Linked DNA regions of Homo sapiens: regions 1 and 2 are each reported to be linked to region 3. The links are microRNA targets in miRTarBase. Many come from high-throughput screens and were not tested one by one. Region 3 holds a microRNA gene; each other region holds the end of a gene's coding sequence.

Evidence for each region. The annotated mature microRNA hsa-miR-6823-3p reads UGAGCCUCUCCUUCCCUCCAG and lies in region 3 at 2,724-2,744, opposite strand. An mRNA with a match to its seed (bases 2 to 7 or 8) in the 3' UTR can be bound and repressed. Matches are read on the target gene's strand: a 7mer-m8 pairs with bases 2 to 8, a 7mer-A1 pairs with bases 2 to 7 and ends in A, and an 8mer does both.
Region 1: miRTarBase lists CCDC30 as a target of hsa-miR-6823-3p. Seed matches in the 3' UTR shown: 7mer-m8 at 4,197-4,203.
Region 2: miRTarBase lists PPP1R26 as a target of hsa-miR-6823-3p. Seed matches in the 3' UTR shown: 7mer-m8 at 2,123-2,129.

What each region holds. Positions count from the first base shown.
Region 1 is chr1:42,652,925-42,660,734 of GRCh38, reverse strand. CCDC30 (coiled-coil domain containing 30) reads right to left here. Exons shown (of 21, transcript NM_001395517.1): 20 at 7,292-7,359; 21 at 3,545-6,917. The coding sequence ends at 6,707. It overlaps PPIH (peptidylprolyl isomerase H), which reads right to left and starts at 2,312. Exons shown (of 10, transcript NM_006347.4): 1 at 2,223-2,312; 2 at 1,827-1,891; 3 at 1,484-1,507; 4 at 1,169-1,213. The coding sequence starts at 2,288. All of the region lies in intron 1 of LOC124904162 (a long non-coding RNA gene), which reads left to right.
Region 2 is chr9:135,486,361-135,494,170 of GRCh38, forward strand. It overlaps PPP1R26 (protein phosphatase 1 regulatory subunit 26), which reads left to right. Exons shown (of 4, transcript NM_014811.5): 4 at 1-2,532. The coding sequence ends at 1,780. Among named protein-coding and RNA genes, the nearest start is that of PIERCE1, 9.6 kb to the right of the region's middle. RefSeq lists enhancers at 2,627-3,338, 4,050-4,760, 4,761-5,471.
Region 3 is chr3:48,547,238-48,555,047 of GRCh38, forward strand. It overlaps MIR6823 (microRNA 6823), which reads right to left and starts at 2,784; the gene lies at 2,724-2,784. PFKFB4 (6-phosphofructo-2-kinase/fructose-2,6-biphosphatase 4) reads right to left here. Exons shown (of 14, transcript NM_004567.4): 2 at 2,881-2,997; 3 at 2,627-2,723. RefSeq lists enhancers at 3,195-3,858, 3,859-4,520, 4,521-5,184, 5,185-5,846.

The sequences.
Region 1 (7,810 bases), not on the chromosome of region 3:
CTCTTAGCTGGGTGCGGTAGCTCACGCCTGTAATCCCAGCAGTTTGGGAGGCCGAGGCAGGCAGATCACATGAGGCCAGGAGTTTGAGACCAGCCTGGCCAACATGGCAAAACCCCGTCTCTACTAAAAATACAAAAATTAGCCGAGCGTGGTGGCACATGCCTGTAGTCCTGGCTACTCGGGAGGCTGAGGCAGAAGAATTGCTTGAACCCAGGAGGCGGAGGTTGCAGTGAGCCAAGATCATGCCACTGCACTTTAGCCTGGGCGACAGAGTGGGACTCTGTCTCAAAAAAACAAAACAAAACAAAAAAAACCTGAAGATTATTCTTTTCCTGAATGATTAAGCTGAAAGGATAATTAACCATAAAAAAGGATTTTCGTTATAAATTAGGGCATGTTAGAGTTGATCAAGTGCATGATCTGGTACCTGAACAGTAATAAGAAGAAGGGGCTGAAAGCTTACTTGCCAAAGCAAAAGGCAGAGCAAGGGTTTGATGTAAATTTGGGGGAAAGAACTACAGAGAATTTATGTGAAATGTACTGCTAAACATGTAAGGGCTTAACAACTGTTAGCTATTACCCCTAGGGAGGGTCCTTAACCTTTCTTATCCTCAGTTTCCTCCTCTGTAGAATGCAGATCACCCATACCACTTCACAGGAGTCTTACTGGGGATTAGAGACCCAAAGCTCTAAAGCTGTGATATAATTATGTGCTAACATTGTTACTAACCACAGTGAGGCCATGAGAAAGATTCTATATTGAAATGAGACTAAGTGTTGACATACTCCACTCCCCAGGAAATATGATTATCCTTGGACAATCATATATGATCATTTTAGGAATTAGTTATAAATATCAACCAGCAGGATATATTATATGCACTTTAGGATTACAAGTGTACTTTTTAAAAAATCTGCATTCGCACAAACAAGTGCATGAAAAAGACAAGATATTGTAAAGATGAGTAGTTTCTGTTTTAAAGACCTAAGAAGTGGGGGAGTGTAAGTAGAGTTAGAACATTTAATAAATCTTCAGTTGTTGAGTCCACAAAAACATTTCTTCTCAAGAAATGTAAGAATTACCCTCTGGTTTTATTTTCCTCTAAAGAGCCTAATCCCCCAGGAAATATTTCTGAAAGACTCCAGGATGGCTTGCCAAGAGCCTTACCTGTGGAAGGTGCTTCCTTTGTATCCTATTGGAACCCCATCTTTCCTATAACCGAAAAGAAAGAGACTTGGAGTGACAGCAGGTAGCACAAGGCCTTTCCAGTTTACCATGCACTGGAGCCAAAAGGACTCTCCTAAAGATGGTTGACAGACATAAAGAAGGCAAATAAACTAGGGACAGACCCTTGGGGCATTACCTTCTATCACTGTCACCAGCAATCATTCAAGGCCAGCAGGTGGTTCACCGATACCCTCACTGCAGCCCCAGAACACCCCTCTGGAGCAGGCAAAGAAGTCAAACACATCTGAAACTGACCTGAATTCTCCGGTGCAGAACTGCCTGAAAGGGACAAAAAATGAATGATTCAATCACTATGATGTCACAGTCGTGAGCGCCTCTAAATACGGGAAAGAATAAACACTGGAGCCAGCAAGTCCACCAATCGGCCAGCCAGACGTCCAGACACGCAGTCACACAGACTAACAACGTAAATTAACACGGGAACAATCCAAACGGCAACCAGACAGAGCAATGCATGGAGGAATCAGGTCTCAAGAGCAGTGAGCGGACGGACAGAGGTAGACAGGCTATTTCAGGCGGCTGACTGGAGCCCGACTTCTGCCTCAGCTAATCCAGCGGAGCTGGAGCACGTCCTTACCTAAAGTTCTCGGCCGTCTTAGGCACAACGTCTGCAAAGAGCTCGATCTTCATGCGGCCAACTTCCTGCAATCAGCGGGAGAGTGTCAGAAGGCCCAGTCCAAGACCATGAGGGCTTCACGGAGCAGGGGGCATGATGGGCTGACCCACCACCCTGCCGCTCGGTATCTCCCACCTCCGCCTCCCTAGTCTAACCGCCCAGTTCCTCCAGAAGCGGGGCGCTAGGATTGGGGAGACTCCTCCTCCTCCTTTCCCCCCGCCCGGCAGGTCGGTAGGTTCGGGTGCAATTTCACTTTCTGGCTGGCTTCCCGAGTCCGCTCTCTCTGGGTGAGTTCTGCCTGCCTAGCCCCGAGCAGTTTCCCTTCGGCGCAGGTGTGGGCAGCCTCCTGGATCTCACCTGACCGCCAATACTGACATCAAAGAACACCACGGGGTTAACAGGACTTGAATTTGCCACCGCCATGGCTCCGACCCGGAAGCAGAAGTCGGGAGCGTGGGATTCCGGCGAACCTAAAGCCCGGTCCGCGGATTTCGTCCGGGGAGCAGGCGCGGTAGACGTGGAGCGAGACCAGGCTCCGCCCCCGGAAGCTGTCGCCCCGTGCGGTGTGTGCTGAGACTGCTAGGGTCTAGCTGAGAGACTCTGCCTGGCACTGGGGACGCGGGAGTGAGGAGGAGGAAAGCCTTGACATCTTTTTGGTTAAGGTCAATGGTCACCCCACTCACGTGGCTGTACTAAGGGCAGTACAAGTTGATCTTGCTCTAGCTAGGACTTTTGGACTAGGCAGTCGCCAGGGTCCTCCTTATCGGCTCTTGCAGCCAAGCCCTCTGCACCGCCACACGTGCTGTCTGTCTTCTGCCCGCTAGTGTGAACACCGTGAAGGCAGGAACTCTGGTTTGTTCATCCTCAGCGTTTAGAACAGCTTGGCACGTACAGGCTTGCTAAGTAAATATCCCTTCCTCTAAGTCAGGACAATAGATAATGTTTGTTCTGCCACAAAAGCTACCAGTTTTGTCATTTCCAATTCATTTCCCATAAAGCAACTAGAGTTTTTTATTTTTTATTTTTAAAATAACTCTTGTGCTTCCTATTTATTTTAAAAATAACTCCTGGCTTCCCATATTTAGAATAAAATCCAATTCCGTGCATACGAAGCCCTACAGTGCATTTATCTGGCTATCACGTACCTGACCTCATCTTGTACCACTTGCCCTTAGTTACTGTGCTCTGACCTGTCTGTTCCTCCAGGTCACTGAGATCCCTCCTCTCTTTAGGGCTTTGTAATAGCTGTTACTTCTGTCTGAAATATTCCTTCCAGAACTTAATGTGGGTTGGCGGGGGATTGTGGGGGTTGGTTGGGGTATGCGTGTGGGAAGTAATGCTCCTTGTAGTTCAGGGCTCACCCCAGATGTTACCTCCTGAGAGGCAACATTAGACCTAATCTAAAGTAGCCCTTGGTCATTCAGATCACTGGTTTGTTTTCTTCATGCCACCCCCACTTCCACATTATCTTCGTATGGTATGTGTCTACACCTCATTTCCTGCCACACACACATAATCTTCCTCCCTGATAGCATATAAACTCCATGAAAGTAGAGACTCTCCTGGTCCTATTCGCAGCTGTAGCTGCAATGTCGCCTACTGAATAGCATATAGTAGGTATTCAATAAATAATAGATGCAATGAATTTAGTGAAAGAAGGGGACCTTGGGCAAGGCTCATTCAATATAACAGCATGCATTTAATAAAATAGTTATTATTTCCTAGTTCCTATGATCATCTTTCTAGCTCTGTTGTCTGAGAAAGCAAGGATTACATATAAAAATACAGTGTGTCTCAATGTAAAGGGTCATTTTTATTTCTGGTTACTGATCCTCTCCTCTTGGTCTCCTCCAACTGAAAAAGAAGAAAGGGGAGGAGGGGGAAAAGGAACAGCAGCAGTCACGCTTCAGTATAATTTTATACCAACTGTTTTAGAATAAATCTTTAAAATTGATAATATCCAATGTTGATGAGGTTGTGAAAAAAATAGTACATTGATAAACCTCTAGTGAAAATAAATGATGATAGCATTTATTAAGCAGTTACTACGTGCTAAATACTTTACATGCTTCATTTCATTTGGTCCTCACAACCCTATGGGATAGAGAACTATTATTGTTCCCATTTTAGGAATCAAGAAATTGAGGCTCAAGGAGGTTGAGTAACTTGACTATGAAAACAGTATGTTGACACACTTTTTATTTATTTTATTATTTATGTATTTATTATTATTATTTTTTGAGACAGAGTCTCACTTTTTGCCCAGGCTGGAGTACAGTGGAGTGGTCTCAGCTCACTGAAACTTCTACCTCTTGGGTTCAGGTGATTCTCGAGCCTCAGCCTCCCGCATAGCAGGGACTACAGGTGTGCACCACCATACCCGGCTAATTTTTGTATTTTTAGTAGAGACAGGGCTTTGCCATGTTGGCCTGGCTGGTCTTGAACTCCTGGCCTCAAGTGATCCACCTGCCTCGGCCTCCCAAAATGCTGGGATTATAGGCGTGAGCCACCGCACCTGGTCAGGCAGAACCCTTTTTTAAAGCAAAGGAAGTGATGTCCTAGAGCAATATTAACATTTATATCCTTTGACTCAGTCCAATCTTGCGAATTTGTTTTCTGGAGTAATTCAAAAGAAGAAAAGAACTACATGCACAAAGACCTTCAACACAGCATAATCTTAAATAGTAACAAAGTAAAACCAGGCCTGGCATAGAGGCTCATCCTATAATCCTATCACCTAGGAGGCTTAGGTGGGAGGATCACTTGAGCCCAGAAATTTGAGACCAGCTTGAACAATAGAGTGAGAGTGAGACCTCGTCTTTACAAAAAGTACAAAAATGAGCCAGGCATGGTAGCACATGCCTGTACTTGGGAGAGGCTGAGGAGAGAGGATCACTTAAGCATGGGAGGTTGAGGCTGCATGAGCAGTAATCAAACCACTGCACTCCAGCCTGGGTTACAAAGTGAGACCCTGTCTCAAAAAAAAAAAAAAAAAAAAAAAAGTAAAAACAGCTTAAATGCCAAACAAGAGAACGTTTAATTTATAGAACATCCACATCCTCAGAGATACTGAGCAGTACTGTTCCACCCTGATAGATGAAATGGATGTGAATGTTGCTGATCTTTTCTGAAGAAGCAGTCCCACTACACTAAAGATGAGCTGGAGACTGTTCACCTACTTTGTACTCCTGTTTGGAAATATTTAGGGGTAGTTTCTGTGTAATGGGGTTTATGTGAACTCTCTTCTCATACCCCCTCCCCCAGGAAAAGCTCTTGGTATTTTCCTATCCACTTTTATTTTATTTTATTTTATTTATTTTTTCGAGATGGAGTCTTGCTCTGTCACCCAGGCTGGAGTGCACTGGTGCAGTCTCGGCTCACTGCAACCTCTGCCTCTCGGGTTCAAGTGATTCTCCTGCCTCAGCCTCCCCAGTAGCTGGGACTACAGGCGCGCGCACTACCACACCTGGCTAATTGTTTTTGTATTTTTGTTAGAGACGGGGTTTCCCTAAGTTGGCCAAGCTGGTCTCGAACTCCTGACCTCAGGTGATCTGCCCACCTCGGCCTCCCAAAGTGCTGGGATCACAGGTGTAAGCCACCACGCCCAACCTCCTATCCACTTTTAAATAATGTATTGCTCTAAATCTTCTTCATTAAACATTTAAAACTTTTCCCATAAAAATAATTATAGAACATCAACATGATTGAATATCATATGGCGATTGAAAATGTTTCCATGGTATATACAGTAAATTAAAAATCAAACTGTGAAAATGAATATACAATATTATAATAACCACTTAGAATATATGTACTTGAATTAGGACCAAAAGGGAATAACTGTAAAATAAAATTAGTTGTGTTAAGACTGTGGTATTGGTGTAATCCCAGCACTTTGGGAGGCTGAGGTGGGTGGATCACCTGAGGTCAGGAGTTCAAGACCAGCATGGCCAACATGGTGAAACCTTGTCTCTACTAAAAATACAAAAATTAGCTGGGCATGGTGGCGGGCACCTATAATCCCAGCTACTTGGGAGGCTGAGGCAGGAGAATTGGTTGAACCTGGGAGGCAGAGGTTGCAGTGAGCGGAGATCATGCCACTGCACTTCAGCCTGGGTGACAGAGTAAGAGACTCCGTCTCAAAAAAAAAAAAAAAAGCTTATGGTATTATAGGAGGGTTTTTGTTTTTGTTTTTTGCTTTTTTTGAGACGGAGTCTCACTCTGTCACCCAGGCTGGAGTGCAGTGGTGCTATCGCAGGTTCACGCCATTCTCCTGCCTCAGCCTTCTGAGTAGCTGGGACTACAGGCACCCGCCACCACACTCGGTTAATTTTTTTGTATTTTTAGTAGAGACAGGGTTTCACCGTGTTAGCCAGGATGGTCTCGATCTCCTGACCTCGTGATCCACCCACCTCAGCCTCCCAAAGTGCTGGGATTATAGGCGTGAGCCACCACGCCCAGCATAGGAGGGTTTTTTTAAAAACAAAATTTGCTTTAATGTGACTGTATTGTTTTTACTGTTAAAAAATAAATCAGAAAAGATACCCATGATAATGGGAAAGAATGTTGAATTAACCCTACATGTGCTCTGCTGAAGAGAAACCTAAATAAATCATTGAACTAAAGTCAATATTTTGGTCAATACAAGGCATCTGAGGATATCAAACAAACTTGAGAAATCCATTTTTACAACTGCTTTAATGAATTTATCAGCAGTTTTGAAGACTCTTGGGTGATATCCATTTGGGATCTGTGGTAACTCTTCTCAATGTCATGGTCCACCTTTTGTCCAGGCTTTAAATTACCACTTTTGTTCAGTATAGCTTTAGGCACCAGTGATTTTATAGTTCTGACTTTTGGTCTTGTTCTTGTATACCATGTGTCTCCTTCAGAGAAGCCACATTTATGTATCCAGCCTCAGAATTCTGTGAACACACAAGATTCTCAGGAGACTTTTCAGGGGACTTTGAACTTGCCATTGCTTCTTTTGACTTGATCTCTTCAGTCTCTTGAAGACTTGCAAATGACTCTACCAAACCTTTTCCTGAAAAACTAAGAAATGCCATATGTGAGGACATCATGTACATAGAGTTTGTTGGTAGCAGTTCGGGGTTACAGGGATACAGGCATTGATAGAATTTCAATTTTTTGCAACTGTTACACAAAGCCAAATAAAATTTACCTTAAACCTATGTTCATATTTTATTTCCTACCTTAAGTCAGGATTCTGTGGGGTTTAGAGTTGAAGGAGTGGCAAGGGGAGGAATTGGAAGAAGATTCAAATAATTCATGTAGAGAAAATGACCCCAGAAAGCTATGCCTTCTCAAGCCAGCAATCCAGGACTAGTTAGGCAGCCATGACTCTCAGGCATGGCTGACAGTCCATCTCAGATAGACTTGACTTTATTTGTCTTGACTTTACTAACCTGGAGTTTGATAAAGGCAATATTTCATTCACTACTTCGGATTCAAGGATGTCACTAATTGTTGTTTCCTAAAAGGAAAGAAAGGATGAATGTGAAAAGTTATAATGATAAACCATTAGCTATATGATCCTAGAAAAAAATATATATATAATAGATACAATACCTGCACATAGTACAAACAATGAAAAACATAAAAGGGTACAGAATGAAAAGCTGGTTGCCCTCTCTCTCTCTATATATATAACCTATCTATATTTATCTATAGACGATCTATCTATATCTGTCTATCTAGTTTTACACACATGGTACTATACATACTATCTTCACCTTGCTTCTTTTGTTATATAAATTTTGGAGATATTGCAGAAAATTTTATTTTTAAAATAACTGCTTTGTTGAGAAGTAATTCACATACTATAAAGTTTTCCCTTTTAACGGGTTCAATTCAGTGCTTTCTAATGTACTCACACACTTATGCAACCATCACCACTGTCTAATTCCAGAATATTTTCATCACCC
Region 2 (7,810 bases), not on the chromosome of region 3:
TAGCCAGGATGCCGACCACAGCCAGGGGAGAGCTGAGCCCGGCCATGAGAGGCGAGACCTGCCCATCCAGGGCAAAGCCAGTGAGGCCCTGGGAGGGGAGGGCACCGCCAGGGGCCCTGGCGACACTCGCATGTCACAGGGCCAGGGTAAGACAGACGAGGCAAGGCGCCTAGACGAGAAAGAGAGCTCTGAAGACAAAAGCAGCTCCCTGGACAGTGACGAGGACCTGGACACAGCCATCAAGGACTTGTTAAGGTCCAAGCGAAAGCTCAAGAAGAGGTGCAGGGAGCCCAGGGCTGCGTGCAGGAAGAAGGTCAGGTTCAGCACAGCCCAGACGCACTTCTTGGAGCAGCTGGGCGGGCTCCGGAGAGACTGGAAAGACAGGGGCCCGCCAGTGCTGAAGAGCTGCCTCTCCAAGTCCAAGAGAGACAGTGGCGAGGGTCCTGGGAAGAAACCCCCCAGTGTCTTTGGCAGCACGGCAGAGAGGATGAGGCAGGAGGGTGCCGCGAGCCAGGACGCGGCCCTGGCCTTCCGGGTGAGGAGACCCGCCTCCGCCTCTGCCTCCGAAGGGAATCCATTCCCCAGGGAGTCCCAGGGCCCAGCTCCCAGCCCCGGCTCCCTGTCTGATGACAGCAGTTCAGTGGACAGCAACGACAGCATCGAACTGGAGATTAGGAAGTTTTTGGCGGAAAAGGCCAAGGAGTCAGTGAGCAGTTCAGAAGTTCAGGCAGAGGGCCCCACCGCTCTTGGGACAGGGGGCCCAGCCAGGCCAGAGGTGCTGTGCAGGAAGGAGCCTGCCCCACCGCCTGGCGTGTGCACACGCAGCCAGAGGGCCAGGGGGGTCCCACATCTGGCCGAAGGGCTTCGAGGCACAGAGAGCGCAGGAGCACAGGGCACAGCTGGTCTGTTCAGCCAGGGCGGGAAGGGGCTCCCTGCTGCTCCTGCCCGAGGGGATCCGGTGCCGCCCAGGAGCACCAGCGGCGGTGTCTCCGCCAAGGGGCTCTCAGTGAGCAGGAGAAATGTTTACGTTCACAAAGACCAGAGCCCACGAGGGGCTGAGCCTGCTGCCAAAAGTGCTTTTGGTCAGCTGCCCAGCTGTGCCACAGCGGGCACCGAGGCAGGAGGCGCCAGAGGAACCTTTCACATGGGCTGCGGGAGCCCGAGCTTCCTGACCCCCAGCCCGGGAGCGGAGAGGGACGCTGGAGCCCAGGCCGACCGCACACCGCCCTGGAGCGACTTCGCCCACCAGAGTCGGCTGCCCAGCCCGTGGGTGCTGCGCTCCGAAGGCAGAGATGCAGTGTGGAGGGGGGGCGTCGGGAGCGAGAGAGACAAGGGGTCCGAGGGCCCCGCCCGGGGCCTGCCCAGCCTGCCCCTTGCGGGCTTCTCGCCGCTGCTGTCCACCCAGCTCTTCCACTTTGGAAAGGGTGTCTCCTGGGGGGGCAGGCAGGCTGGCCTCTTCAGCCCCCACCTGGGGCTGCCTCTGCAGGGCCCCTCCTTCTCGGCCTTCAGGGAGGCCCAGGCCGGACCCAGCCCTGTCTTTGGAAGCCCACACTTGCTGGCAAAGAAGGACGGCGGCCCCTGGCCAACCAGGAAGGCACAGGCAGGGCTGAGTTTGCATGACAGGAGGAGCTCGGGCTCGGAGGAAAGCATTTTAGACCTGAGGTATCGACGAAGGGTCAACAGGGATGACCAGGAGCAGGACGCCTTGGGCAGTGACGCCAGTGACTTCAGCGACACCTCCACGGAGGACAGTGGCGGCAGCTCAGTAGTGAAGGTCTAAGCCCTCGAGCTGTGGGTTCGCGTCCTGGGTTGCGTGCATTCGTGGAAAGCGGCGTAGCCGTGCGTGTGTGTGATGGTTCCGTGGCTGCAAGGAAGGGAAACAGTCTATTATACATAGCCCTGTATATATGTACACCAACATGAAACTTTTATTTAACAGACGTGTCCTGGTAAATATGATTTTTGTAGCTTTTTGTAAATTATTTAAAGTGATGTAAAAGATATTTTTGGAAAATACTGTTGTTCAATTTTGTAGGGTGTTCCTAACTGCAGTTTTCTGTGTTCTGCATACAAGTCTTAGCTTAGGAAACATTTGGTTCTTACCATCACAGCCAGGTTCACAGAGGCTCTGATGCTTTTTGGTTGATTGCTGGTGAGAATGGCCGGCGGTGGCTGCAGTGGTAGCCTGAGGAAGGCCAAGCTGCCCTCCCTGGGAATCACTCAGATGCCCCAAGATGTCCGTTGGGAAGCTCCCAGGACAGCACTTTTTATACAGAGGACACCGCCTCGGCCCCACGTCCTTAGAGGCCAGAGCACATCTGAAAACTGCAATCACAGCCGTCCGCTGGAAAAACGTTTCGAAGCACAGTGGCCAGCGAGCGAGCACGTGGCTACTCCCTGTTGCATGTCAAATCCACACAGATGTCAGCGGCAGCTGCTCGGCAGCCCAGCCCTGGGCCTGGGTGGGTTCATGTCCAATCTTGTTCGATCACTAGATGATTCTAACATCGAAATAAACCTCTTTTTATATGGCGTTACTGTTCTTTTTAAATCATGGTTCTTAAAGATAACACACGTGCACTTAAAATGTCCTTTTCTCTGGCCGGGCGCGGTGACTCACACCTGTAATCCCAGAACTTTGGGAGGCTGAGGCGGGCGGATCACCTGAGGTCAGGAGTTCGAGACCAGCCTGGCCAACATGGCAAAACCTCGTCTCTACTAAAACTACAAAAATTAGCCAGGCATGGTGGCGGATGCCTGTAATCCCAGCTACTCAGGAGACTGAGGAAGGAGAATCACTTGAACCCAAGAGGCGGAGGTGGCAGTGAGCTGAGATCGTGCCATTGCACTCCAGCCTGGGTGACAAGAGTGAAACTCCATCTCAAAAAACAAAACAAAACAAATTTCTTTTCTTGCACACACCAATAAGCACTGCTTTGAACTTTGGTCCCCAGACACCCAGGGCAGAGATGACGTGCAAAACCCAGTCCTGGGGATAAGCGTTCTCCATACCTGCCCTCCAGAAACAGGAGCCCCGTCAGAGGTGTGCCCGAACACCAACGTCAGCCCTTTGGGTGGCTTTCTGTGGGCGCCTCCCAGGACAGAATGCACAGGGCCCTCTCCTGCACTGTGGCGTGGTTAAAGGTGGCGGCCTCAGGTCCTTGGTGTTGGTGCCCTGTGATGCTGCCCTGGTATTCTGTGCCTTCTGCTCTGAGGCCACCGCAGTGTCCGTGGCTACTACAGAGACAGAAGCAGTGCTGGGCACTGATGGGCCGTGACATTTACATTGTAATTGTCCAGCAAACTTTGATGAGTCACTGGAGCTTCCCAGGTCAGCCTCGTGGCTTAGCTGCCATGCGGGGTTTCTTTGGAGCTGAATCTTGTTGGTATTCGAACATGCGAGTGGCTTGTCTACACACTGTGCACCCCTGGGTTTTAGCAAGAATTCACTCTTGTATCCAGATGCAGGCATGTGCCACCTGCCATCCACAGATGCAACGTCTGCTGGGTCAGAAGCCGTGATGAGGGTCCCTGTGGTTGCTGTTCCTGTCCAGCCCCGTCTTTTGTGTGTGATATCTTCGTTGTGGCATATTGCTTCACTTAAGTGCTTCCAGGAGAAACAGTTCCATGTAATCCATGCTCTTTTATTTATATTGCTTTTTCTTATTTTTTATTTTTTGAGACGGTGTCTCACTCTGTCGCCCAGGCTAGAGTGCAGTGGCGCAATCTTGGCTCATGCAACCTTCACTTCCCAGGTTCAAGCGATTCTTGTGCCTCAGCCTCCCAAGTAGCTGGGACTACAGGCATGAGTCACCTCACTCAGCTAATTTTTGGATTTTTAGTAGAGAGGGGTTTCACTGTGTTGTTCAGGCTGGTCTCAAACTCTTGACCTCAGGTGATCCGCCTGCCTCGGACCTCCCAAAGTGCTGGGATTACAGGCTTGCGCCACCGTGCCCGGCCTTATTTATATTTCTAAATAGTGCCTGTGGGGATGTTGGCTGGAAACCAACCCCCTTGTCCTGGGCCCACCAGGGGAGGAGCCACAGCCACAGTGCACGTAGCACTGAGCCTCTCCCACTCCTGCCCCCATGCCCACCCCAGGGTCGCTTGTCTCATCTCTTCCCCAAACCCCGGACCCTTTACACCTTCCCTGACGTTCACATGTCCTCTGCCAACACTCCACATAGCAGTGCAGGTCAGAGCTGCTGCTGCCCCAGAAAGAAGACCTCCTGAGGTTCAGGGACATGGCATCTGTAACACGGTCACCAGCTCTAGTTAGCGTGTTCTGCCCGTACATGTGTGTAGGGCATCCCCTATCCACATGCAGAGCAGTTGCCAATTGGCTTACAGTCACTGTGGGTTAATCACTCACTAAGAATGTTCCAGGAACCTGCATTTCTTTGTGGAACACTTTGGTCCATTTTCAGTTTTTGTAAAGAGGTGCCGTGTCGTCGCGGGGGTCACCCTGGTGGGGTGGACTCAAAACTGCACAAGATGTCCCCAGTTCAGAGCTCCTTACCGAGGCCCTTGGGGATCAGGCTTTGCTGTGACAAACAGTGGCTTGCTTAAATACCGACCAAATGGCCCTCCTGATGGGGTTAAAACAGGCGATCCATGCCAGTCTTCCCTGGAGCACGGGGGGGCTTCCTCCCACCTTTGTTCTGCCGATCACAGTTGCCCTTGGAGCTCCTCTTGTCCTGCTTTCAGGAGTCACTGGTGCTTTAAGACTCAGCTGGAGATGAGTCGGTTGGTGCCTTCTTTCTCTTCACAAACTGGAATTCCCTGGAATTGCCCATGGGCCATGTGACCTGAAAGTGGTGCTTCTTCACCCCCTGCACTGTCCTGTTTGTTTTAGAGAAGAGGCCAAGATCCAAGGTTCGTCCACACCTGCCAGCGGGTTTTCCTGTATGGGAGGGGGCTGCAGTCAGGGCAGCCAGGAGCTGCACAGGAGGGATGCCCGCCCCTGTGTTGGCAGTCTGTCTCCCAGCACCTCCGCAGATCCGGGTGTGACGACGCGGCTGCATCCCATGAATACGGGCCCGGCGCCGCTGTGGGAGTAAGTAGATGTGTGCCCGCCCTGTAGGAGTCTCCGGCGGACAGTGTGTCAGTAAGTCAAGCTCTTTGCAAGTCTGTAATTATTAAGACCTAGAGGTAAGTCATGTCCCAAGAGCCCCTCTCTTCCCAGGGAGTAGGGCCAGGGTCCATTTCATCCAATACAAATAATCGGGAGAGGCCAGGTTTTAAGGTTTCTCGTCCTCTGGGATGAGTCAGCCTGATGTCGGGGAACGGGGATGGGAAAAGGAAAAAGCTCTGGCGGGTCATGTCTGATATTCTCCACCCACCTCCCTATGTAGGGGGAGAAGCTTCCTTTAAGGAAGAGTCCCCCTTAATTTATCTGTCGCTCAGAATCTGAAGGCTCAGACAGCAGATTTTCCCAGCTTGAGATATATTTGCTTTGGAAAATCAAGCAGTACATGTAATTATTAGCACCTGTCTGCTCATATAAACATGTAAAAGGCATTGCCCCCTGGATCCCCCCTCCCTCAAAACGAATGAAAGGACCTGTTTAAAGGGGCGTAGGGAACAGCACAAAGTCCACATTCCATATCCGCAAATCACAACCAGGTTTATTCCCAGGCGTGGCTGTTGGGGAGGGTGGGGGACAGATCACATTATTTGCAAAATCTTTGAGGCTTCTGGTATTTTGTGTACTATATGTAAGAGATTTTTTTTTTCAATGTCAAGATATTTTACTACATAATAGAAACCATTCTAATATTGACTGTAATGAAAAGATAAAGGTTACTGATGAAAAATACAGAAATATAAATGAAAATGTACGTTTAAGAAGTGGCTGGTTTTAAACCAACCCAGCAGTAAAATTCAGTGATTAGTAAAGCGACATGAATTTTTTTTTTTTTTTTTTTTTTTTTTTTGGAGAAGGGGTCTCACTCTGTTGCCCAAGCTGGAGTGCAGTGGTGTCTTGGCTCGCTGCAGCTTCCACCTCCCGGGTTCAAGCAATCCTCCTGCTTCAACCTCCCGAGTAGCTGGGATTACAGGTGTGCACCACCATTCCTGGCTAATTTTTGTATTTTTAGTAGACACAGGGTTTCGCCATGTTGGCCAGACTGGTCTCAAACTTCTGGCCTCAGGTGATCCGCCCACATCAGCCTCCAAAAGTGCTGGGATTACAGGCATGAGCCATTGTGCCCAGCCTTAGCTTGTAATTTCTGAGTGGAATAAAAAGGCTAAACAAAGCAAAGACTGCTCTGTGGAGTGAAGAGAGAGGGTTTCAGAAATGGCTGTGTCCTTTTTTTTTTTTTTTTTTTTTCCAAATATCTCTGCAAACTGATGTTACACTGTGTTTCCGTCACCTTTCCTGTAATTCTGAGATTTTGAAAGAACACAGTATAGATGGGTGCCATTTTCTTTTCATTTTGCAACCCTCCGTTCTGTACGCTTTAATCCCAAACAGAAAACACACCCGTTGAGCGTTCCGTTAGATCAGTGGACTTGATTTTTCTCAGCATGTGAAGATTTCAGTTTGGAAATCTGTTCCAAAGAGGAAGGTCTCCAGATTTGTGATCCCTGGAGCTCTGTATGACTCACAAATGCGTAGTAGGTTAGGACTGAATCTGCGGCTCTAGTGCCGATGGCCTCCCGCCTCCAGGATGTCCCCAAGGCGGGCTCCAGCGAGGCCGGCTCGCAGCCTTCCATGCGGCTCTGTTTCCCATCTGAGAGGGAGGCCCCAGGTGTGAAGATCGGGCAAGGTGACAATGCCAAAGCCCTTAGAACACTGCGAGATGCCAAGAAACGGAGCGGCGGGCACACGCCCGGGCCTGGGCATGGGAGACAGGCAGGCTCACAATTCAGAGGTATTGGGGTTTTTCATCTCTCCAGATGCTTACTCTATTTAGAATAAATGAGTGGAGTCTAACTTTCCATCAGCTCATTAGCAGCTGTACAGAAGTAACATTTTATTAGACACGACCAACTAAATCACTCGGCACCCAACTGAGATGCCGGAATTGAGCCCGTGAAGCCCGTAGGAGGGAGGCACCTGTTGCTGTTGGTTGATACTCCCAGCCTGGGCCCCGACAGCGCCTCAGCTAGAATTGGGGGTGTTATCCGAGTGAAGTGGTTTCATCAGGTGTGACTTTGCCTGCAGGCGTGACTTTGCCTGGATGAAGCCATCTTGCTACAGCAGTGCAGGTGTTCAACAGTTCTAGGCTGGCGGGGAAACAAACGCAGTCATTTGGACTGATGGCTTTATCTTACCCTGGTGCTTTTCAAAATCATCTGTGGAGGAAGCAATGCATTCTTTTTTTTTTTTTTTTTTTTTTTTTTTTTGAGACAGAATCTTGCTCTGTCGCCTGAGCTGGAGTGCAGTGGCGTGATCTCGGCTCACTGCAATCTCCGCCTCCCAGGTTCAAGCATTTCTCCTGCCTCTGCCTCCCGAGTAGCTGGAATTACAGGCACACCCCACAACACCCCTGGCTAATTTTTGTATTTTTAGTAGAGACAGGGTTTCACCATGTTGGTCAGGATGGTCTGGAGCACCTGACCTCAAGTGATCTGCCCACCTCAGCCTCCCAAAGTGCTGGGATTACAAGGTGTGAGCCACCCACCATGCCCGGCCGGGAATGCATTCTTTTCAGTGTGTTGAGAAACCTGATTGATAAGGCATTTTTTTTTATTTATTTCAATAGAAGCTAAACACAGAGGGGTTACTGGTATTTCTGGTATTTTTAAGGAATAACTGCAAAAACATTTTCAGTTTGATGCCTGGAGTCTCTGCTGGTTTTTTAGC
Region 3 (7,810 bases):
GTGTAGGTGCCCACACATGTACATATACCCTTATGTATAACGTGACTGTGTACACAGGGGGTGTGCATGTGTATGTACCCTGTGCATATGGTATACGCATGTCCGGATGTGTGCCTATGAGGTATGCACATGCATGCATGTGCCCACGTGTGTGTGTGCATAGGGGGCTTGTGTGTGGTATAGGACTGTGTGCAGGAGTATGAGTGTGCCTGTTTAGAATATGTGTACTTATGCCCTTGCATACACTTTGTTTTTGAGACAGAGTCTTACTCTGTCACCCAGGCTGGAGCACAGAGACGCAATCTTGGCTCATTGCAACCTCCACCTCCCAGATTCAAGCAATTCTCATGCCTCAGCCTCCTGATGTAGCTGGGATGACAGGCGCCCCACCACATGTGGCTAATTTTTGTAATTTTAGTAGAGATGGGGTTTTGCCATGTTGGCCAGGCTGGTCTCAAACTCCTGGCCTCAAGTGATCCACCCACCTCGGCCTCCCAAAGTGCTGGGATTACAGGCGTGAATCACTGCACCCGGCCTTGCACGCACTTTTCTAGATCTTCTGCTGTGTCCAGTGTCAGAGATGGACCTCAACACTGTGTGAGTAACTGGGCCTCTGGGAAATGCAGCTGTCTCTTCCCAGGTTTTCCATTTTAAAAACTCTGGTCCTTTTATTTTGCTAATTGGGAAATTTTGGGCTGATTAATAGGAGATGGCCCTGTGGCCCAGCCAGAGCCAGGATTCGGATACAGCAGAGAGGGTTTCTAGGGCAGCCAGAGGGTATGCCTGCAGAAAGGCAGCAATGAGCCTGTCCCCAGCTTCTGTTGCAGGGTGACCTTGGACTAGCTTCCCAACCTCTCTGAGTCTAGGTCTCTTCATTTGAATTAATCCCAAATATCCCTACCTTAGGGGGACAGCCAGAGTGGAACAGCTGGCAGACTCTCCCCACAAACACTATGGATTCAGGCAGGACGGACTTCAAATTCAAACCCTGAGTGACCCAAGGCACCCCCATCACTTTCTGGCCTTGGTCCCAGCATCTGGAAAAGTGAGGCACCGCCCACCACAGAAGCTGCTGGGAAGATCAGACAGTAGGCTATCAGCGTCCACAGCTTGGGGTTGTTGGCTGAGGCAGAAGAATTGCTTGAACCTGGGAGGCGGAGGTTGCAGTCAGCTGAGATTGCACTACTACATTCCAGCCTGGGCGACAGAGTGAGACTCCATCACACACACACACAAATAATAATAATTTTTAAAATAAATAAATAAAATTTGCATTTGATGTTCCTTGACCTACCTATTGAGGAATATTGGAATGATGGACACTTTTTAGCGGTGGATGGGCTTAGATTCAAGTCTGGGCGCTGATGTAAACTTGCTATTTTGTGCGAGACTCCTGGCCTGTCTGAGCCTCAGTTTCCTCATCTGTAAAAGTAGGGGGTGACAATGGGCATCAAGAACCCAGCACACGGTAGGTTCAGACATTAGTCCTCTACTTTTTATCTGGCTCAATATAACCAGAGGGTCCAGCCTTGATTTTTACCCACAATTTGGCCATAGAAACCTGAATATCAGGCTCCCCTTCCCTTCTTGGTGCCACAGCCTGGCCCAGCCACACCGATGCAAGAACAAAGGCAGTCTCCAGTCTGAAGGTCCAAGCCCCACAGCAGGGAGTTCCTGCCCCCTGGTGGCCAGAGAAGGAACGGGTAGCCTAGTGTGGACCCCAGTGGCAGCCTGGTAGCCACTGGGCTTGATTTGGGGAAGTCACTAGAGCTGGGTCAACCTCTGCTCACTGCCCTATCCTGATGGCTGGGCCAAGAGCAAGTCTCTGCCACCCTAGGTTGATAAGGGGCTTCTCAAGACCACAGCTAACACCTCCTGAGAAAAGCACAGCATGGCTGCTCAGACCACCAGCTGGTGCTCAGTTCCTTGAAGAAAGGACTCAGTTCAAGTCTGAAAGTTGTTGAGGGTGGGGCGGTAGCATATACATATTTCTATCTCCAGAGTAACAGCAGAAGTGTGAACGACTCACCCAGCAGCATCTAGGAGATGTCAATGCAAAGCCAATCGCACCAGCAATCACACACCAAGAACATGCTCCAAATACACAGGAGAGAGCTTATCCTGGGGCAAGGGAGGAAGCCCCCCACCCCCAGCTCCATCCCTAAGGCCTGTATGCCTGCACTCACTCAGGTTCCCTTCCCCAGCAGCAGCCATCCCCACGGGGCGCTGGGGTGAGCGAGCGTGACCTCCAGGCAGCAGCTCCAACGACCTGCATGGGCTGAGCCCCTCTTACCTCCCTGAAGCTCTGTCCTTCCCAAGGGTTCCTTAACCCCAGGGCAGGAATGGCCCAGCCACCAGGAGGCCACACAACACACCCTCTCCTCTCATCCCCAAACCCATCACCTCCCACCCCCACCACATCCTGAGAGATCCAGAGACCAGCCTTGTCACACAGCCCTGTCACACAGCCATCAGGGCTGGGCAAGGCCAGGGCTCAGGAGTAGCTCAGTCATTCACCAGCAGCTCCACTCCAGGGGCTTCTCAGTAAATGGTCAGTAATGTGTTAGCTTTCTCCACACTGGGTCCCCCAGCAACCTCTCCCCCCACACCCAACACATATACTTACTTCCTGATTTTCAGGCCCTCTTCATTGTCGGGGAGAAAAAATTCAAAAGATTTGTAGGTCTTGACCACGTCCCGGCGATACTGGCCAACATTGAACTCTGGAGGGAAGGAGAGGCTCAGCTTTCACAGCAACAGCAACCCCTACCAACCCTGACCTTGACCCAACCCCAGGCCAAATAATAGAGAATAGGCCTTCTCTATTCTCTTCGTCATGCCCCACAAAGCTCCCCTTAGACAGCTGGGGCCAAGCCTCACCCCGAGTGGGCACACCAATCCAGTTCAGGTATCGAGTCAGCTTCTTGGAGATGTAGGTCTTGCCCCTGGCGGGCAGGCCCACCATGACAATGAGAGTTGGGCAGTTGGTCATGCACACTAAAAGGCAAGCAGCACAGTGTCAGATGAGGGCTGGGACCCTCCCAGCGCACCCCTCCCTCTCAGCCTGTGGTCTCTCAGCCTCAGGGCATGGGACTGGCATCAGACGTATCTTCTTGGCTTCCTAGCATCCCCACACAGCTCCTGGAGTGGCCCCAGATGCTGGTTTCAAGCCACCGTTGGCATGTCCCCCTTCCCCAGGCCCGCCTGGGCTCTGGCAGACACAGTGGGATCTCTCCAGCCCTTTTCATCCTGATGTGCACCACCAGGCATAAAGTCAACCGAACTTGCCACTGGCTAAACATGGCTAGGGGGGTCCCCACCGCATGAAGGACAGGACCAAAACCCAGCAGGGTAATCAACACCCTGCCTCTGTCATCCAGGAATCCATACCCTAACCTTTTTACATCTCTCCCACCCCATCCATCACTCAGTGCTCCCAGAACACATAGCCCCACTGCATGCCCTCCCTGTGGTGAACTTCTTTTCATCATACAAAGCCCAGCTAAAAAGTCACTTCCTCAATGAGTCCTTTCCCCAAGGCATCTCCATGGCCACCGGGAACACCCCTCACCCTCAATCCTGGTCACCTCACTAATGACACTCTTCTCTCTAGACTGATCACTTACAGCAGAAGAAGCCCTGTGGTATCTGAGCCCTTTAGGGCCCTGGGGCCTGGCACAGCGCTGGTGCTCAGGAACTGTGGGCAGGATCAGGGAGGGAGGCATCTAGAAGTCTCTCAGGGTAAGGACCACAAGGGGTTGAGACCAGAGACCCAGACTGATGCCCACAAGGACAGTCCCTCTGATAGCCCACCCACCACCATCCATGTGCCACAGGTCAGTGTGCCAGCCAGAGAAGATGCCAGGCTAGAGGCACGGAAGGATCTGAATACAGCCCCCTATATTCCCAGCTGGCTAGAACAGATACCAAGGCAGCAGAACTGCCAGCTTCATCTTATGGGACCTAGCTCACTTTTCTTTTTTTTTTTTTTTTTTTGAGACGGAGTCTCACTCTGTTGCCCAGGCTGGAGGGCAGTGGTGCGATCTTGGCTCACTGCAACCTCTGCCTCCCAGGTTCAAGCGATTCTCCTGCCTCAGCCTCCCAAGTATCTAGGATTACAGACACCTGCCACCACACCTGGCTAATTTTTGTATTTTCAGTAGAGACGGGGTTTCGGCATGTTGGTCAGGCTGGTCTCAAAACTCCTGACCTCAGGTGATCCGACTGCCTGGGCCTCCCAAAGTGCTGGGATTACAGGTGTGAGCCATCACCTCCAGCCTTCTTTTTTTTTTTTTTTTTTTTTTTTTTTTTTTTTGAGAGGGAGTCTCGCTCTGTCGCCCTTGCCCAGGCTGGAGTGCTGGAGGACACTGGTACCCAGCTCACTGCAACCTCTGCCTCCCGGGCTCAAGCAATTCTCGTGCCTCAGCCTCTCAAGTAGCTGGGATTACAAGCACATGCCACCACACCTGGCTAATTTTTGTATTTTCAGTAGAGACAGGATTTCATTATGTTAGTCAGGCTGGTCTCGAATTCCTGACCTCAGGTGATCTGCCTGCCTCGTCCTCCCAAAGTGCTGGGATTACAGGCGTGAGCCCAGCCCTCAGCTCAGTTTCCAGTGCCATCAAACGCGGTCTCACGTCAGAAGCCTCAGGAAGCTTCCTTTTCCTCATCCTTAGGACCTGGGTCAGGTAAAACCATAGCAGACAGGCAGATGAACAGATGTGGGGACCTGTCACTGCCCCTCTTCTTGGTTCTGCAAGTGCCTTCACCTGGTTGCCTAGACAGACTGTCCCCACCAACAAGTTGTTTCCCTCAGAGCACAGAGGCCCCAGAAGCACTTCCGCAGGGGATCAGGAGTCAGGCCTGGGTTGCCATCTTGAGTCTGACACTCATTGGGAACTCTGAGCCTCGGTGTCCCCAGCTGTAAAATGGGGCAGTCATCCCTCAGAGAAGCCTAGTGCTATCCAAGAGCCTGGGCACTTCTGGGAAGCTGTGCCCTCTGTCCTACCCTGGCGGATACTGAGCTAAAGCCATAGGTGTACCTCGGCACCGACTGCCCTTGGGACTCAGGGCATGGAGGCGGTGGCCTGGCCCCAGGCAGGCCCTGCAGAGAAACAAAGGGCCTTGCTTGCCAGTGGGGGCTCCATCACTCCTGTGCATTCCCCTTGTTTAAAGGTGACCCAAATGGTGAGCCTCAGGGGCGGGAAGGAGGAGACCCCATGAAACAGGCTGACTGAGTGAGAGTGGAGAAACTTGCAGAGAACTCTCAGTATTAGCTAAGGTGAGAGGAAAACAAGTTAGGCAAGGCCTTGCCTCCTCAGGGCCGGTGGACAGCTGAGGCCCGCATTGTGCATTGTTTGCATAGTTCCCGGCCAGGTGGCCGGGCTCTCAAGCAACCAAGGGCAGTGCGACAGCTGCTAAGCAGGAGGAAATCCTGCATCTACCCTGCTCCCGCTGATGGGGCCACCCCCCAACTGCTCCTTCAGGGACTCCCAAAACCTCAGGACTGGGGATCTGCACCCCCTCTCCACATCTCCTATTTTCCCAGAGACAGCTCCAGCCTCCTCCCATGGCATTTGGTGGCATTTCCCTTCCCGCCTTCCACCCACATGCGCAGCACAAGGTGGGCAGGCAGGGCAGCAAATCAGGCCTGGGTGCAAAACAAGGCAATAAATTACCTATCTCCTCTGCTCCCCAAGATAAGCTCCCAAGGAAATGACCCAAAAGAAAACCAAAGTTCAAGTGTATCACAACAGCTCTGCTTACCATAGCAAAACACTGGGAAATTCCAGCCATAAGAAATTGCCAACTGAGGCACAACAAGGAGGGAACACATTGCAGCTCTCAAAACAGAGCACGTGGACTAAGCGGGCTGGGTGCACGGCTGCACCTGTGGCTCTGAGCCCACAGGACCCTGACACTGAGCAAACAGGATGGTAGAATACACTGTTTATAGCTGGGCGTGATGGCACATGCCTGTAATCCCAGCACTTTGGGAGGCCGAGGCAGGCAGATCACCTGAGGTCAGGAGTTCGAGACCAGCTTGGCCAACATGGTGAAACCCTGTCTCTACTAAAAATACAAAAATTAGCCGGGTGTGGTGGTGCACACCTGTAATCCCAGCTACTCGGGAAGCTGAGACAGGAGAATTGCTTTAACACAGGAGGCAGAGGTTGCAGTGAGCCAAGATTGTGCCACTGCACTCCAGCCTGGGGGACAAAGCAAGACTGTCTCCAAAAAAAAAAAAGAACACACTGTTTATAACATTGAGCATGTGCGGAAGGAAATGTGAAGACATGTCAGCCCAACTTCCCTCATGGGTTCCTTTCCTGTAAATTCGCTGCAGGCCCCATGAGCTCTAGGAGCGAAGGGGCCCAAGGGGCCTGAGACGTGCCTGGCAATGGGCAGTGTCTATGTTCCATTACTTCTACCCAAGGAGCAGCCACAAGTCCCTGGAGGGGGTGCCAGAATTGACTCCTGAACTGCAACTGCTCTCACCTCCTTAGGCCAGGCTAGGGAAGGAAGAGCTCTTTAAAATAAAGTAACGTGCCATGGAGGCCCTTTTCAGAGGGGACTGAAAGTCATCTCTCCTGTTGCCCTGTGCACACACCAGTCATGTCCTTACCCAGGAAGAGTCTTGCCACCTTTCAGCTGAGAAAAGCCATCAAACACCGTCCTTTCTGCAGTCCTTCTTGAGTCAGCTCTTGCCCCACCTGCCCTCAGAGTTCCTCCAGGTCTGAGCTCGGAGGCCAATGATGGGAAAGGTAAAAGCCTCCCAAGCCCTCAGGTGTGGCTTTAAATTTTATCAAGCGGGGGCGTGCCTGTGGGAGTGGAGGAGGTGCAGTACATCCCTCAGTCCACCAGCCCCTAGTGCCCTGAGGAGCTGGGGACTAGACTCCAGAGAAAACCCAGTACAAAGCACAGACCAGCAGTGGGTCCTGCTTCTTCCTCCCCACAAAGCCCTGGGACCAAATCCGCTTCCATCCCCACCCACACCCTCCGGGTCCAGACTGTCCTTGCAGTCACTCAACCTACAAGTCTACTATGCAAAGGGTAAAGTGTTGCCCAAATGCAGGCACTGGGAGCTGGAGGTGCTGCATGGGCGGGTTCCATGTTCATTCACTGCTTACCCACTCCCTGCTGTGAACCCTGAGGCCCAAATCCCCAAACAACCTGCAGGTCTCATCTTTGGCCTCTCAGGTGCTACCTCCTCCTCCAGGAAAAAGTGCGGACCTAGAACCCAGCCTACCCCAACACCCTGAGACACCGTGATGGCACGAGCCCCTCAGCTCAGGCCAGAGCCACATTTCAGTTCCACACTTAGAGCCTGGAGAAACACAAGCCCTGCCTCAGGAGCTATGAGACCTTCCCATTGGGCCTCAGCTTCCTCTCACCTGTAACGGGGGTTGGCTTGGAGCTGATGCATCAATCCCTGACTCAGACGTAGTGAGAAGCAAAGAAAGAATGGTAGTGATGACAGAATACCCTGCCTCCGCTTATTGAGGACCTACTCCTTAAAGGCTCACAGACTTGGCTAGGCATGGCAGCTCATGCCTGTAATCCCAACACTTTGGGAGGCCAAGGGGGGCAGATCATTAGAGATAACGAATTCAAGACGAGCCTGGCCAACATGGTGAAACTCCATCCTACTAAAAATACAAAATTAGCCGGCCATGGTGGCGCATACCTGTAATCCCAGCAACTTGGAAGGCTGAGGCAGGAGAATTGCTTGAACCCAGGAGGTAGAGGTTGCAGTGAGCTGAGATAGGACCACTGCACTACAACCTGGGCAACAAGAGTGAAACTCCGT